Linked DNA regions of Homo sapiens: region 2 is linked to region 1. A link means that fine-mapping ties the variant in region 1 to the expression of a gene that starts in the linked region. Tissue or cell type: whole blood. Region 1 holds a variant in brackets; the other region holds the start of a gene. All regions are shown on one strand. Distances are from middle to middle.

What was found. PIP is the estimated chance that this variant, and not a neighbour inherited with it, causes the effect.
Region 2: it holds the start of CAMTA2, and the variant in region 1 is fine-mapped to the expression of CAMTA2 in whole blood (INTERVAL, PIP 0.93).

What each region holds. Positions count from the first base shown.
Region 1 is chr17:4,837,167-4,845,417 of GRCh38, forward strand. All of the region lies in intron 1 of MINK1 (misshapen like kinase 1), which reads left to right. Among named protein-coding and RNA genes, the nearest start is that of MINK1, 8.0 kb to the left of the region's middle. The variant C/T (reference allele first, on the strand shown) is at 4,776.
Region 2 is chr17:4,983,503-4,991,502 of GRCh38, forward strand. It overlaps CAMTA2 (calmodulin binding transcription activator 2), which reads right to left and starts at 4,173. Exons shown (of 23, transcript NM_015099.4): 1 at 4,091-4,173; 2 at 2,690-2,784; 3 at 2,378-2,481. The coding sequence starts at 2,720. INCA1 (inhibitor of CDK, cyclin A1 interacting protein 1) reads right to left here. Exons shown (of 7, transcript NM_001394789.1): 3 at 6,650-6,763; 4 at 6,388-6,427; 5 at 5,926-6,122; 6 at 5,277-5,442; 7 at 4,628-5,052. The coding sequence ends at 4,903. CAMTA2-AS1 (CAMTA2 antisense RNA 1) reads left to right here and starts at 4,242. Exons shown (of 3, transcript NR_187235.1): 1 at 4,242-4,723; 2 at 4,914-5,090; 3 at 5,185-6,443. RefSeq lists a silencer at 3,653-4,192.

The sequences.
Region 1 (8,251 bases):
ACAAAGCCAGACTCTGTTTCAAACAACAACAACAACTACAACAAACAGTTCGGTGAAAGCTAAGATTTTGGCTGTTTTGTTCATTTTTGTATCCCCAGTGCCTGTAAGCATGTTTTGCACATAATGGGGGCTCAAACGTTTGTTGCAGAAGTGCCTCTTACAACACGTGCCACTTACAACACAGTGCAGTGCTTGCTTAGAGAAAGTATTCAATAAACCCCAGGCTTCTTAGGCTTCATTTTGCCCCTCTTTTATTTATGCACAATTAAGAATATATTTTTTCTGGGATGTTTTTAGAATCAGACCTTGTCTGGGGTAAACAGTTCTGGAAGCCTCCAGCTGAGCGATGCCCTTGAAGTAAAGTTAGGATCATCCAAGAGAAAATGTGGGCCTCTGTGTCTAAGCTTGGTTATATTCCAGGAGAACCTTCTGACTTGGAACTCTTGGCTTCTCACAAAGGATAAATATCAGTGGAAGTGGATGGGACAAGGAGGGGGCAGGCCCCGGCCTGACCTCTTTCCTTTTGCATTGCTCCTTTTGGTTGACCCACTTCGTAAATCAAACAGCTTCTTTTTACCATCCAGCTCGAAGTTTGACTGCAGTGTCCTTGAAACTGTGGAGCTATGCTTAGCGTCGCTGGATTGAAATCATAGCATGGAGCACATTCAAGGAGGACTTGTTGCTCGGTGGTAGCTGCTGACAGAGATGTTCTTTTTCAAATGATTTTGTGTTGTTGTGTCTGTTCTTTGGATAAGTGTCTTCGCCTTCCTCCTCTCTTCATGCGGCTGTGGAGCCAGCACCACTCGGAAAGCTGGCAGTTCTGGGCATGTATTTCTAGGCTGCTGAGCAACGTGGGACTGCCTCTGTGTTCTGATGTGCTAGCTGTCCAAATGTTGATGACAGATGCCTTAGGCAGGAGAATGGGAAGAGTGACCTCCTGCTGCAGAAGTAAGGACATTCAATAGTGACTTTTTTCCCCTGGAAAATTGCAAAAGGGGAATGGGGCTGTTTGGAGAGCTCGAGGCATTTAGATGAAGTGAAATGCTGCCTTGGCAAAATGACGGAAGGAAGATTACTGAGAACTTGGCTGAAACTAGGTGATCAGTCATTCCCCAAACAGAGGGAGAGACATCCCCACCCTTTATGCTATGGGATAGGACAGTTTGCCATAGTCCTTAGGGATATACACAGCAGGGAGGTTTTGACAGTTAAGATAACAGTAAGGTCAGCAAGAGAGCCAGCTGGCCCACCCCCTCACTCTTGCCCCAGGAGCTCAATTAAAACTCTGCTGGGTAGAATCCTGACTTCACATCTGGCCTCCATTCCTTTCCGCATTGAACTGTGTGCCTAAGACAGGGTAGCACACACAACTTGCACATGTAAACCATCTTTGTTTGTCATTTAGGGGACATGATGGCAGGAAGTGTGCAGCCGCTCTTGATAAGCTTGTATTCTGGTGTAGGTCTGTAGATAAGGCATGCAGTAACCTCTCAACCCAGAAACATAAAGCAATTCTGGACTGGAGAACATCTCCAGAAGCCGGTGAGAGTCTGCCTGTCTAATATTTCTGTCTCCAGACAAAGTTGAATCAGAGAAAGTTATCAATAATCCCCTGTCCTCCACCAGTCAGTCGCCAAGCATTGGCAGTCTATGTATTGAGAATCAGGTTCCAGATTCTATGGAAAGGATGTAATATAGTACTCAGTCCTCTACTAAGCTATTTAACCAGATCTCTGGGGACATCCACCCAAGCAAAGCAATGCCTTTCCAAGCCTAGACTCTTTTTTTTTTTTTTGAGACGCAGTCTCGCACTGTCGCCCAGGCTGGAGTGCAGTGGCGCGATCTTGGCTCACTGCAAGCTCCACCTCCCAGGTTCACGCCATTCTCCTGCTTCAGCCTCCCGAGTAGCTGGGACTATAGGCGCCCGCCACAATGCCTGGCTAATTTTTTGTATTTTTAGTAGAGACGGGGTTTCACCGTGTTAGCCAGGATGGTCTTGATCTCCTGACCTTGTAATCTGCCCGCCTCAGCCTCCCAAAGTGCTGGGATTACAGGCGCGAGCCACCGTGCCCGGCCTAGACTCTTTTTCTTAACTGTTACTGTTTTCCTCAATATCCTGCAACCTTCAAGGTTGGGACATTTTTGTTAAACCTGATTTCCATGAATTACACTCATTTTCTGTGGTCAGTGGGCAGTCATCTTGAAACCTGGTCTTCAGCCCCACTCCCTTCGACACCTACTTTTTACTACTATCTGTCTCAGTCTTCTCTTTCCTGGATTGAAGACAGAACAAAAGTGATCAGGTTAATAAGTCAACTCTCAAAGCATTTCTTGAATTCACACAGAGTATAGTAAGATACAAAAACGTGACTTGGTAGAAGACTTGGATCCTGTCCACAGCTCACGGCCATTTGCTCTCTCCAGTTCTTTTGCCATTCTCCTCCGAACCAACCAGTCCTTGACTTGAGACTGGGCTTCTCTTATCTATAGGAAGCTCTTCTAGGGGGTAATGGAAAAAGGGTTTTGAGGCTCTTTGTTCTTACTAAGGGCGGGAATAGTAAAGGGAGGAGAGAAAAGAGGGATGGAATTGTAGTGACCCAAGAGAGCCCCTGGAGATTTTGTCCAGTGGCTAGACAGCCTGAGGTTGTACGTGCTACGTGTGGGTAGGATTTTGTGTTCTGTTTGAGGAAAGATCTAGAACTAGGCACAGAGGACACAGTGGTGATACAGTCTAGTAGTAGGGAGAGACATTAATCAAGTAATTATTTATTAATGTGTGTGTGTGTGTGTGTGTGTGTGTGTGTGTGTGTGTGTGTGTGATTGCAAGCCATGATAAGGACTGTAGTGAAAACTTTAACATGCCGTGGGCACATATAACAAGAGTTGTTTTGAGCATATGTTCTCAGGATCTCCTGAGGGCTGTGTCATGGAAAAAAAATTGCTTTTACGAGACAAAACTTTTATAAGACAAAAATATCTAGTTGATTGAGAGAGACGTAAATCATGTCAGAAAGCTAAACTGGCATTGCTGCAGAAAGATGAGATAGAGTTGAACCAGCAGGTAGAGTTTGGTGATGGTGAGAATTGGGAGACTCTGGAATGGGGCCATTCTTATGGTGAAGCATTTGGTCAACAATTGAGGGCAAGAAGCCTGAGGATGGGGTGGAAACTCCAGGCTTAATTCCAAAAGGATTTCTTCTGAATCTTCCTGTGGGAGGGGAAAAAAAATGGTTTATTTGTTTGTCTCAAAAGTTAAGAGCATGTATATGGAAAGAGCTTATGACTCATATAATCCTCATTTTTACTTACTGGGGGAGGGACTCTGGGTCCTGGGTCTGTAGTTTAGATGTGGCTCCTCAGAATGGGGTATATGAGAGAGGAGGGTGTATCCCTAGATGTTATTAGCCTAAGGGGTGCCTGGAGTTTGGAAGGTAGGTGAGTCTCACGGAAATAAGAACAAGTAGGCCCAGCCCTCAGCTTAGCTGCATGGTCTGTGGGAAGTGGGATTCTTTCTAACATTGGATAGATAGTGTATATAAATAGACAAGACTCTCCATTTACATTGTATACAAGTAAAGGATGAGTGGGGTGTGGAGGGGGAGTGTTACTGATTTTGCGTGTTTGAAAGGAAACAGGGTTGGGGAAGCCACAAGTCTTGGGCTTCCTGAAGGAGCCAGGCTCTGGGACCAGCTTGAATGTCGGGAGGATGGCAGCGTAGAAGACGGTGAGGTGGGCTGTGAGGAGAGTTTGGTGGCACAGCCTGTGGGAGGAGCCTGGGTGGCTGGAGAGAGATGAATGGAGGAAATGGGGACGAGCTGCCTAAGAAACGTGGTGATAGTTGGCGAGGGAGGAGACAGGAAGACCTTTGACAGAGGAGATAGCTGAGACCTCAGGTTCATCCACAGCAGGTAAATTCCAGGGCCACACGGGACAGGCGACGTGGGGAGTGTCTGTGGTCACAACTGGGGGCCCCAGCACTTAGAGCCTGTGACTCAGTATGTACACGTAGCACCAAATGCTTTTTGGTTCTGTCTTGGGCATCTCCGCACGGGCACTTCCGCCAGTGGTTTCTTCCATTGCCTTTGGGATGAGCAGGCCTCCTGAAAGCAGGCCTGATATTCTCTGGTCTTCTGACAAAGAATGGGAAATTTCTCACACCGTCTTGTTCCAGGAACCACCTGGGGATGGGATTTGAAGGGCTTGGGTTGCCGAATTGCTCCTAGAACCACAGGCTTAGAGGAGTTTTCTATGAACAGCGGTCCTGGCAGGGACAGACTGAGGATCGGTAGGGCTGAATGAAGACAATCCCACCTCCTTCAAGAGCCACCTCAACTTATGTTTTTTTCCCACAAAGCCCCCCCTCCGATTTTGCCAGCCTTTACTGATCACATCATCCACTTTCTCACAGACCTTACAATTTAGCATTGGCTTATATATTGCCTTATATTGAATAATGTTTTATGGTCTTGTTTTTCCTACCACTTCCTTATGTGTAGAGACTGTGATCCATATTTCCTCTTGATCCCTGTAAAGATGCTGAGCACACAGTAGGGGTTCAGAAATTACTTGGTAAGAGACATGGATCTAAGTATGTCTGTGACTGGACCTTTCCTACTAGATTCAATCCACAATTAGTACAGGGTGCCCAGTATATGCTGGGCACGGTGGGATACAAAGCAGTACAGGTGCTGACTCTGGTTCTCAGCCAGGGCACCGCTGGCCTCCAGGGGGTGTTCGGAAATGCTGAGGAGGGAGGATTAACTGTCTTGGGAGCA[C/T]CGGGCACGGTGGCTCACGCCTGTAATCCCAGCACTTTGGGAGGCCGAGGCGGGCGGATCACGAGGTCAGGAGATCGAGACCATCCTGGCTAACACGGTGAAACCCCGTCTCTACTAAAAATACAAAAAAAAATTAGCCGGGCGCGGTGGTGGGCGCCTGTAGTCCCAGCTACTTGGGAGGCTGAGGCAGGAGAATGGCATGAACCCGGGAGGCGGAGCTTGTAGTGAGCCTAGACCACGCCACTGCACTCCAGCCTGGGCGACAGAGCGAGACTCTGTCCAAAAAAAAAAAAAAACTGCCTTGGGAGCACTAACGGCATTTAGCACATGGGGATTGGGGATGTTAACCATCTGGCAGAGTCTGGGACAGTGCATCGAAGAACTGTTTTTCCACCCGTATTGCCACTGGTACCTCTCATGAACTTGTTATGGACATGGGAGAGACCCGGGGAGGGACTGGACAGGTTTCTTCCATGAAGTAGGAAGTAGTTCCTAAGTCCCCTGTGTACTTCTTTCCAGGTAGAGAGAGGAATGTGGGCTCTAAATTACCCTTGTGCATGGCACATATCTAGCAGCTTTTGTCTGCTAGCATACCTCTGGAGGTAAAATAGGTAGGCTCCCAGCCAGACTGTAAGGAAGATTTTCATGTTCTCTTTTCACCACCCACCCACTCTTTCTTTCAAGGCACATTTTTAAGAAAGTGGCTGAAGCTTGCAATACTTAGTCTTTAGTTCTAAGTGACTCAGGAAAGAGTCTTCAAGAAAACAGTTGGACAGAGTGCCCCAAAGCCTAAGCAGCGTGAGGCAAAGATAGGCAGGTGCATGTGGCGTCTTAGAGAGGGGCCAGCACATCGTCTCTTCTCTGGGGTCTTTTCATCCTACACTTGTCTTTTTGAAGACAGAGGTGTGGTGAATGAATGTCATTACTTACATCTGGGGGAGTGACCAGAGACAGTAGAAGACACCTTGCCCTAGTGTATCCTTTCAGGGTGGACCAGTGGCTGGGAAGCAGCACAGCTGAGCGGGATGAGCTGGAGCTGTGCAGAGCTGCCTTCCACAGCTCGCTGTTTCCCAGTCCCAGTCAAGAGAGCAGAACTTGGTAGGCTCCTGGCCTTGGGTAGCTAAGGTTTGGAGGAGGTGGAGAGAGTCCGCCTAACCTTAACAAGGTCATTCCTCACAGTGGAAACTACCTGAGCCCCACGTGTCGAAGCAGGGTAGGGGGAACAGGCAGGATGTGGATCAGAAGTTGGTTTGGGCTGGGCGCAGTGGCTCATGCCTGTAATCCCAGCACTTTGGGAGGCTGAGGCAGGCAGATTACTTGAGGTCAGGAGTTCGAGACCAGCCTGGCCAACATAGTGAAACCCTGTCTCTACTAAAAATACAAAAAATTAGCCAGGCATGGTGGGAGGCACCTGTAATCCCAGCTACTGGGGAGGGTGAGGCAGGAGAATCGCTTGAACTCAGGAGGCGGAGGTTGCAGTGAGCCTAGATTGCGTCACTGCACTCCAGCCTGGGCGACAGAACGAGACTCCGTCACAAAAAAAAAAGAAAGAAAAAGAAAAAGAAAAAAAAGGAAGTTGGTTGGTTCTAGTAAGTCCTTTTTCTGTCTGTCTTCTGTTTGGAACAAAGATTGCTGTGATAAAGTCATTTATATTATGATGCAGATTCATTTCAGAAGGGGGTGTTTGGGGTTGGAATAAGAACCGTAATGAACACTTACTGTGCAGTAGGTTCTTTCCTTCTGTAATCTCATTGTCCCTCACAAGAACCCTTTGAGGTGGACAATATTATCCTCATTTGCAAGATGAAGAAACCAAAGCTTACAGAAATTAACTTGGAAGTTAAGTAACTTGCCTGAGGTTGGACAGCCAGTAAGCAGCAGAGCCCACATTCAGACTCAAGTCTGACTCCAAAACCTGGGCTGCCATGCTGTTGGAGGGAGACCTGCTCCCACGTGGCGGTGGGTATTTGGGGGTGGGCACTGAGGGGAGGACAGGAGGGCAGTGTGTAGCTGGCACTCTAGACTACATGCAACTGGTATTGTTTTCTGCCTGTTTTTTGGTTTCTTTTTGCTTTTTTTGAGATGAACTCTTGCTCTGTTGCCCAGGCTGAAGTACAGTGGTGCGATCTAGGCTCACTGCAACCTCCACCTCCCAGGTTCAAGATCCTCCTGTCTCAGCCTCCCGAGTAGCTGGGATTACAGGTGCGCACCACCACACCTGGCTAATTTTTGTATTTTTAGTAGAGACAGGGTTTCACCATGTTGGTCAGGCTGGTCTCGAACTCCTGACCTCAGGTGATCCACCCACCTCGGCCTCCCAAAGTGCTGGGATTACAAATGTGAGCCACCGTGCCCGGCCTGCCTGTTTTAATTGTAAATGTGTGATATTTCTGTGACTTATGGTAAACAGGCTTTGTGGGCTTACTGAGGACTAAAACATTATCCATAACGTTTCTTGGTAAAGTTTTTGGAGACTTTTGGAATATGGCCTGTTTCATGGGCTGGAGACAGTCTGTATGAGAGATAGTTACTGCCCTCCAGGAGCACTTGGCCTCTAGATCTGTGTCTTAATAGAGGACACCTTTTATTCGTATACCTGGGTCTTTTTGAGGTGGGGAGAGTGAGTGACCTCAGCCTGAGCTGAACAGGTGGTGGGTTGGCACTGGGGAGCACATGTTGGGAATACAGAGCTCCACGGGGCTCGTACCCAGAACTAATAGAGATTTCTAAATGTAGGGCCGCTGGGTAGATCACTGTGATGATGAAGAGGACATGCAGAAGACTTCAGAATATTTGGTCTGCAGGAAAGATAGTCGAATAATTCAAAAGAAAGCCTCTTCAGAGGGAGGAGAGGAAGGCTGTCTCATTTCCCCCCACCCTTTAAAAATGTGTTGTTGTTGTTTTTTAATGTGATTAAGTATATGTAAGACTTACCATTATAACCATTTTTCAGCGTACACTTCTGTGGCATTAAGTGCATTCACATTGTTGTGCAACTGTAACCACTATCCATCTCCAGAACTTCTTCATCCTCCCCAAATGAAGCTCTGTACCCATTAAACACTGACTCTCTGAACCCTCCACCTTCCAGCCCCTGGCACCCACCATTCTGCATCTCATTGTCTTTTGTGTGTGCAGAGTTGAGCAGAGGGTCTGACCGAGCAGATGTTTAATATTTGTTGAGTCCGCCTAGGTGCATGTCTCAGAAGTCCATGTATCATCAGCCAACCCAGAACACAACCCCCCTCCCAGCTCTAATGCAAGATGACAGGCTTCTGAAAGGGATTTTAAATGAAATGGCTGTCTGGAATCACAAGAGGATTGGGCAGCAGCAAGAGAAGTTAAGGGTTTCTGTTCCGTATTCAGTTCCTTTTGCCACCCCCCAGCCATGACTTGCGTTCTGGTTCTGCTATGCTCATGTTCGTCATCTTGCTTGTTTTCAGCCTCTTACTTCATCTCATCCTGGGGGTCTGATG
Region 2 (8,000 bases), 150 kb after region 1:
TCGAACTCCTGACCTCAGGTGATCCACCCGCCTTGGCCTCCCAAAGTGCTGGGATTACAGGCGTGAGCCACCGTGCCCAGACTTTTTTTTTTTTCTTTTGAGGCAGAATCTTACTCTGTCACCCAGGCTGGAGTGCAATGGCATGATCTCAGCTCACTGCAACCTCCGCCCCCCAGGATCAAGCAATTCTCTTACCTCAGCCTCCAGAGTAGCTGCGATTACAGGCACTTGCCACCGTGCCCAGCTAATTTTTGTATTTTTAGTAGAAACGGGGTTTCACCATGTTGGCCATGCTGGTCTTGAACTCCTGACCTCTGGTGATCCGCCTACCTCAGCCTCTCAAAGTGCTGGGATTACAGGCATGAGCCACCACTCCTGGCCTCTGTGCCCCTTCCTGACTCAAAAAATTTCAGTGGTTTGACACTGCCAGGAATTTCAGATTATTTATTTATTTATTTATTTTTTTGAGACAGAGTCTCGCTCTGTCACCCAGGCTGGAGTGCAGTGGCGCCATCTCGGCTCACTGCAAGCTCTTCCTCCTGGGTTCATGCCATTCTCCTGCCTCAGCCTCCTGAGTAGCTGGGACTACAGGCGCCCACGACCACGCCCGGCTAATTTTTTGTATTTTTAGTAGAGACGGGGTTTCACTGTGTTAGCTAGGATGGTCTTGATCTCCCGACCTCGTGATCCACCCGCCTCAGCCTCCCAAAGTGCTGGGATTACAGGCGTGAGCCACTGTGCCTGGCAGGAGTTTCAGATTCTTTAGCCTGACTCCAAGGTTCTTCCCAACAAGGGATCAAACTTTCACTGTTCCCACTATTTACCCATATTGCTCCTACAATTCCTGCCAGATGGATCCATTGATTCCTTCCTGAACATGCTTTGAATAGTTACCTCCTGCATGTTAGTGCCCTACAAGGCAGGTACCATGTGCACACCTCTCCATATCTGGAAATCATAGCCATTCTATAAACCAAACCCCTTTTCAGATGCTCCATGAAGCCCTGCTGACCACACTGGACCTTCCTAAACGCTCTATAGCACTTACAACAATCACACATACACACATACACGCATCGTTTTACTGACAGTCCTCTTCTGACATCAAATTGATAAATATCAACAACCAACTACATACAAGGCAGTAAGTATGCAGAATACAGAAAATGTGTAACACAAGGACTGTGCCTCCTCCAGAAAGAGCCAGTATCAGTGGTGGTTAATAACAAAGGTTCCAGCCGGGCGTGGTGGCTCATGCCTGTAATCCTAGCACTGTAGGAGGCCGAGATGGGCGGATCACTAGGTCTAGAGTTCGAGACCAGCCTGGCCAACATAGTGAAACCCCATCTCTACTAAAAATACAAAAATTAGCCAGGTGTGGTGGCGTGCCTGTAGTCCCAGCTACTCCGGAGGCTGAGGCAGGAGAATGGCGTAAACCTGGGAGGCAGAGCTTGCAGTGAGCCGAGATCGCGCCACTGCACTCCAGCCTGGGCGACAGAGCGAGACTCCATCTCAAAAAAAAAACAAACAAAAATTAGCCGGGCGTGGAGGCACATGCCTGTAATCCCAGCTACTTGGGAGGCTGAGGCAGGGGAATCACTTGAATCCAGGAGGCGGGGGTTGCAGTGAGCCAAGATCGCGCCATTGTACTCCAGCCTGGGCAACAAGAGCGAGACTCCGTCTCAAAAAAAAAGGCCCTGGAGTAAGTTAGATAAACTATGAGGTAAATCAGTTTCCTCATCAATAACATAGGAGCAATAACAGGGCTTGCTCTATAGAACCGTTAGAGGATTAAATGAGACAAGGCAGGCCAAATGTTTAGCACGGTGCCCAGTATGTAAGGAATACTTTACTGGCAGTAGCTTTTGTTTTTACCCAGGTGGCTATGCCACAGAAAAGAGGGCTCCTTCAAGATCCATGTCTTTTTGTTTTTGTTTTTGAGACGGAGTCTCACTCTGTCACCCAGGCTGGAGTGCAGTGGCGTGATCTCAGCTCACTGCAGCCTCCGCCTCCCTGGCTCAAGTAATTCTCCCGCCTCAGCCTCTCGAGTAGCTGGGATTACAGGCGTACATCACCACGCCTGGCTGCTTTTTGTATTTTTAGTAGAGACGGGGTTCCACCATGTTTGCCAGGCTGGTCTTGAACTCCTGACCTCAGATGATCCACCCGCCTCAGCCTCCCAAAGTGCTGGGATTACAGGCATGAGCCACCATGCCCGGCCAAGATCCATGTTTTTATACCTCTCCTAGGATCCCCAAAGAGCTTAGAATGGTGCTCTGCACTTAGGAGTGTTGACAGACACGGAAAGACCCCCCACTCACCCTCCTCCAGCCTACTAGGTCTTGCTGGGCCCCAACCCCCAGCCTCCCTAGAAAACCTCATTTGTATTCCACCGTAGCCTCTCTGGAGGCAGCAGCGGGCAGCGAGGAAGACACTCCAGCAGCTTCTTGGGGAGAAAGATCTTCAGGTGGTGGCTGTTTTCTAAAGGGAATTAGAAGGGAGGGTTTAGTGTGCTACCCTGGGGCATCCCTGTGATAGTCCAAGGGGAAAGGGCTGAAGGCAATACAGAGCACTGGGGAAAACTGAAACCTCACTAAGGAGAACAGAAAATCCAAGAATTAGAGGGCCACTAAAGCGTGGGGAGAACGAAAGGCTGTGGCCACATTGGGAACCTGGTTTGTGAACTTACCAGCAACCTCGGTGGTGTCCTTGGTATTCATGGTGAGGGCTCCAGGGGGCAAGGTCACCCCCGGCCTGAGGGGCCGGGGGGAGGGGGAGTCTGTGCTGGGAAGGGAGAGAACAAGGTCATGGCAGAAGCCCCCACATTAATCCAGGATGAGAAGTATGAGGTAGGGAGTGGGTATAGAACTGGGTCATAGTATCTGGGAAGGATGAGGAAAGGGAGGGAGGGGCTGACTGTGATGTGACAGTAGAAGAGAGAACAACACACAGTGCCCGGAGCCAATATGAGTGAGCAGACTGGACAGGAAGAGTGAGCAGGAAGAAATGGGTTGGGGTGGGGGAGCGGGGAGAAGACTGGCAGGGCTTGGGCCTCAGAGGCCCTAAACCTTGAGCTTTTGCACAGACTGGGGCTATGGTTGGGTCAGGTCCTGGGGGTTGGGACTCAGGCCATCCGGTCCTTGGAGGATGGTTTGGCAAGAGAGCCTGGATCCTGGGGGCAGGGCAGGAGATTCTACCTCCGGTAGAAGCTAGGCCTTTAGAAGACACGCCCTGAGTTCCTTCTCTGTTTGATTTTTCCAAGGGGAAGGGCAGATCTGATAACTGAACCTAACCTATTCTCTCCTCCAGGTTGGTTAGGACCTGATAGAATCTGGGCCAGACACCCAGATTCCCACCCTCAGGACAACCCACCCTCCGGCTGACAGCCCTCTCTACGTAGCTCCCTCTCCCCAAACGCCTCTGCCTCCCCTGGCCTCCAGGCCTAGCCTACCCCATCTACCGCTCTGGCTCCAGCCTGAGCCCCCCGCCCTCCTCGGGGAACAGATGGGAGCTGGCGGAGGCTCTCAGCACGGGCTCCGCCAGGTGTCCAGGATGGAGATGGGAGGAGGCCCGTCGGGCTCGGCTATGTGCAGTGAAGCTGGGGTTGGGGTAAGGACTCCGCCCCAGGGCGCAGGTGCGCAGTCCTGGCTAGGCAGCCTGCCAGGGTGCGGAGCGGGAGCGGGTCCTTGGGCTGCACTTGGGCGGCGCCGGATCGGACGCTTGGCACTCTGGGCGGCCCCCCGGCGGAGTGGTGGTCCCAGGAGAACCTCCGAGGTGGGAGGGTCCCGCCCGCATAGAGGGATGTTCTGGAGAAGCCGGGAGCAGAGTCCGCGGGCACGCGGTGGGCGAGGGACAGTGCAGGTGCCGGGTGCGGGGGTCTCCGGGACAGTCCCCGGCACGCGCTGGTCCGCCGTGGGGCCCTGCGGTGAGCGGCGCCCCCTGGCGCGGGGGAGGAGGACGGAAGCGGGAGGTGAGGGCGAACCGGGAAGAGGGACGGTGGTCCCTGGCGCGGCGCTCCGCGTCGGGACCTGGAGGAGCTGCGCCCTCTGGCGCGGGGGCGGAGAGGCGGGCGAGAGGCCCTGGCTCTTACCTCCCGGGGTCCCGCGGGTGACGGCGGCAGCGGCCATTCTACCCCACACCGACCCCCCCCAGCGCCGGCTGACAGCGGCGTCTAACGTCACTGCGCACGGGGCGGGGCCTCCCAATTAAGGGGATGAGGGTCAGGAAGGGAACCTGGGGTCAGCACACGTGGAGTTCTGGGTGGGGCGCTGGGCAGAGGGACTCGGCTTCTAGGGCTCTGAGCCAGGCCGAGGGACAGACTGCTGGGAAGTCCCCAAAAGGGCAGCAGCACTGAGGGGCAGGATTCCAGGGTCCTGGAGGCGGAAGCTCGGCCGACTGACTCCCAGTTCGAGAGAACGGGGCGGGGGCAGCCCACCAGTGCTGGAACCCGAGGGGCCGGGCGAGGAACGCTGGACTGGGAGCAGGACCCTTCTCGCCTCGGACAAGACTCCTTGTCTGGGGACCCAGCCCGACTTCATTGTAGCTGGGTCCTCGAGAAAGCGAAAGGAGCCCTCCTTCCCCATTGGCCTCTCCATCGCTGCATCCCAAGAAGAAAGACAACTCGGGCTCCACTTGCTTGCTTTTTAATAACAGAGCAGAGAGAATACAAGGCCAGGAGCGGGGCCTGGAGGAAAACAGGACTTGGGGTGCTCCTGTGAGAGCGGTGGGTTGAGATGGGAGCCCACGGGGGCTGTTAATGCCTAGTTCAGAGGATGGGAAAGGCAGTTGGAGAGACGAAGGAAGGGGAAACGCCTTCATGTCAGCAATGAGGGTGACTCTAGTGACGGAACTAGTCTTGGGTCCCTGGGGCACCACTAGCCTCTCGGCATCGGTGGTTTCTCCTTACTCTTCAGACGCTGCCAACTCCATCCCCCAGGGATTGTGAAGGGGGTTCCTTCTGGCTGTGACAGTGCTGAACGAGGCCAGAGAGTGCAGCTGCCTGGAGGCACAAGCCTCCTCCTGATCCAGGGGGCTCCAGGGAGACCAAAGCAGCTGTCAAGATGAGAGAAATTGAAAAAGAAAATGGAAAAGTAGGTCTTCTTTCCAGATTTCCTAGTACCCAAGCTTAGGTACCTCGAAGTCTCTGGTTCTCACCTACGTTATTTTTGTTTCTCTCAAATCCAGCTCTCCAGCCTGGCTCTCAGCTTCTGCATCTCCATGCAAGACCAGAGACCCACATCACTCCCTCACTCCACCCAGTTCCACTCCAACAATACCTGGGCCCTGCCAGGAGTGAGAAAACGGTCCTCTTCCTGTGGATAGGTTGCTCTCTCCTCTTCCAGATCAGGGTATTCATTGGTGCTGGGGAATCCACAGCCCTCTTCGCCAAGCACCACTGGCTCAGATGCAGCCCCAGAGCTGCCCCACTGGGCCTTCTTCAGTCTGTGGAGACTTTAGGCTGAGGAGAGAAGTGCCTGGAGGCCAGGCTTCCTGTCTCTCCATTCTTCACCTTTCTGTTCTGAAATACTTCCTGCTGGGACTCCAGGGAGTTGTCATTTGACCTTTAACCCTCCACTCCCAATTTTCTGCTCCCCTCAGACTGAAGCATATTGTCTAGGAACCCAGAGGTGACCCCAACCTCCCCACTGTCCTCCAGTTCTATGGTTTGCTTTCCTGTCTTCAGTGATCTAGTTTCCACTCCTTCCAGCTCATGTGGCTCATCCTCCTTACTGCAGTTCCCTCCTTCTTTCCATATTACAGAAATCTGTTTCAATCACACCAAAGCCCACAGCTTCCTTCCAAGCAACCTCCCCTCAAAGCTCCCCTCAAACCTCCCCTCAAAGCTGTCAACCCCTTCCTTAGCTCAAACTGTTCTGCCCCCAAATCCTGCATGACTCCCAGAACCCAGATGTCTCCCTTCCTTACTCGTTGATGATGCTCTGACGCCTTCTTAGGTCCTCCAGGTGGTAAGTGACAGCCCTCACCCGGGCGGGGACTCCCCCAAGGCCCTGCTGCTGCATTCCTTCCAAACATGGCCTCCTCTTCTTTCTTCTCCAAAGCATTTCAGGGGGTGGGAGCTGCTCAGGAGGATACAGACCAAGCTGGGAGCAACCAGTGGCTCTCTGTGCCAGAGAATGGGGAAAAAGAGCTAGAAAGAAGAACTGGCTCTCTCAAGGGAGCTTGGATTGAACTAGGTAGGGAGTCTGGGGTCTTGGGAAGACCCCTGTGATCTCGAAAACATGATGACTGATTCATAGAAAGGAAGGCCTGGTCAGTGCACTGGTTGGGGAATAACAGAGGGAAGCGGTAATAAGGAGAGCTTGGGACAGGACAGCAGTGGGTGCAATTTTAACAGAGAAATGTTAAACGGCAGAGGGTCTGTCTTACCAGCATGGGTGGAATGTGCTGCTCCTCCAGCCAAGTGGGGCTGTGAAGAACAAAAAGGGGGCTATAAGTGCAGAGGGGACATGTCCATCCATATTGCTTCTTTAATAATCTCTCCCGACCTCCTTTCTGTCATTAGGAGCTACAATGTCCACCAGCCAGTGGGAAATTAACCGCAGACTAGGGCCTATTGCTATATGGGTTTATGGTAGTTTAATCCAGTTAAGACCACATCCAGTTAGTTTCCATTTTCTCCTCTACTCACGTGGGCCTTTGATTAAGGTTCTTCCAGAAGACATCTCCATAACGCTGGGGCATGGGTCTGAGGCTCTGGGAAGGCAACCTTGGGGGTGGAGATCGGCTGACCACCCTGGAACACCTGAGGTGAGGACAAGGTAGGCTCGGGTCTGGCTCTTCCCTTACAGCAGTCTACTCATCCCAAGGATTCAGGGGCCATCTTTCCATGGGACTATAAAGCTGCCCAGGTTCCCTCGGGCCATGTCCTCTCTTAACCACTTTAGCTGAAGAAGGTGGTAAGGCCTCTGCTTTGAAAGGAAATTGAAGCTGGGTTGAGGGTGGAGATTGGCTATAGTTTGACCCTCAGATCTCACTGAGTTTAAGCTCTATATCGGGGATGTCCAATCTTTTGGCTTCCTGGGCCACATTGGAAGAAGAAAAATTGTCTTGGGCCACACATAAAGTACACTAACACTGGCCGGGCGTGGTGGCTCATGCCTGTAATCCCAGCACTTTGGGAGGCTGATGTGGGTGGATCACCTGAGGTCTGGAGTCCAAGACCAGCCTGGCCAACATGTTGAAACCCCGTCTCTACTAAAATCACAAAAAATTAGCCAGGCGTGGTGGCGGGCACCTGTAATCCCAGCTACTCGGGAGGCTGAGGCAGGAGAATCACTTGAACCCGGGAGGAGGAGGTTGCAGTGAGTCGAAATCGCGCCATTGCACTCCAGCTTGGGTGACAAGAGAGAAACTCCGTCTCAAAAAAAAAATTGCAAAAAATCTCATAATATTTTATTTTATTTATGTATTTATTGAGACCGTTTCACTCTTGTCACCCAGGCTGGAGTGCAATGGCACGATCTCGGCTCACTGCAACCTCCACCTCCCGGGTTCAAGTGATTCTCCTGCCTCAGCCTCCCGAGTAGCTGGGATTACAGGCACCCACTACCACGCCCGGCCAATTTTGTATTTTTAGTAGAGACGGGGTTTTGCCATGTTAGCCAGGCTGGTCTTGAACTCCTGACCTCAGGTGATCCACCCGCCTCGGCCTCCCAAAGTGCTGGGATTACAGGTGTGAGCCATTGTGCCCGGCCTAATCTCAACGTTTTAAGAAAGTTTATGAATTTGTGTTGGACTGCTTCAAAGCCATCCTAGGCCGCAGGTTGGACAAGCTTGCTTTATACCTCATAGTTAGAGAAGGTAATATTTAGCAAGCAGAGTTGTTAAAGAGGAAGGCCTTGGCTACTCAGGTTATATGACAGATAGGATTCATTTAGGTCAATGCAAGGATCCAGGGGAGAGAACCTCTGTTTACTTCATTTGTCTCCCCATCTCAAAAGGACTAATATCCTTGTAAATAGGAGTGTGCAGAGCTGTTT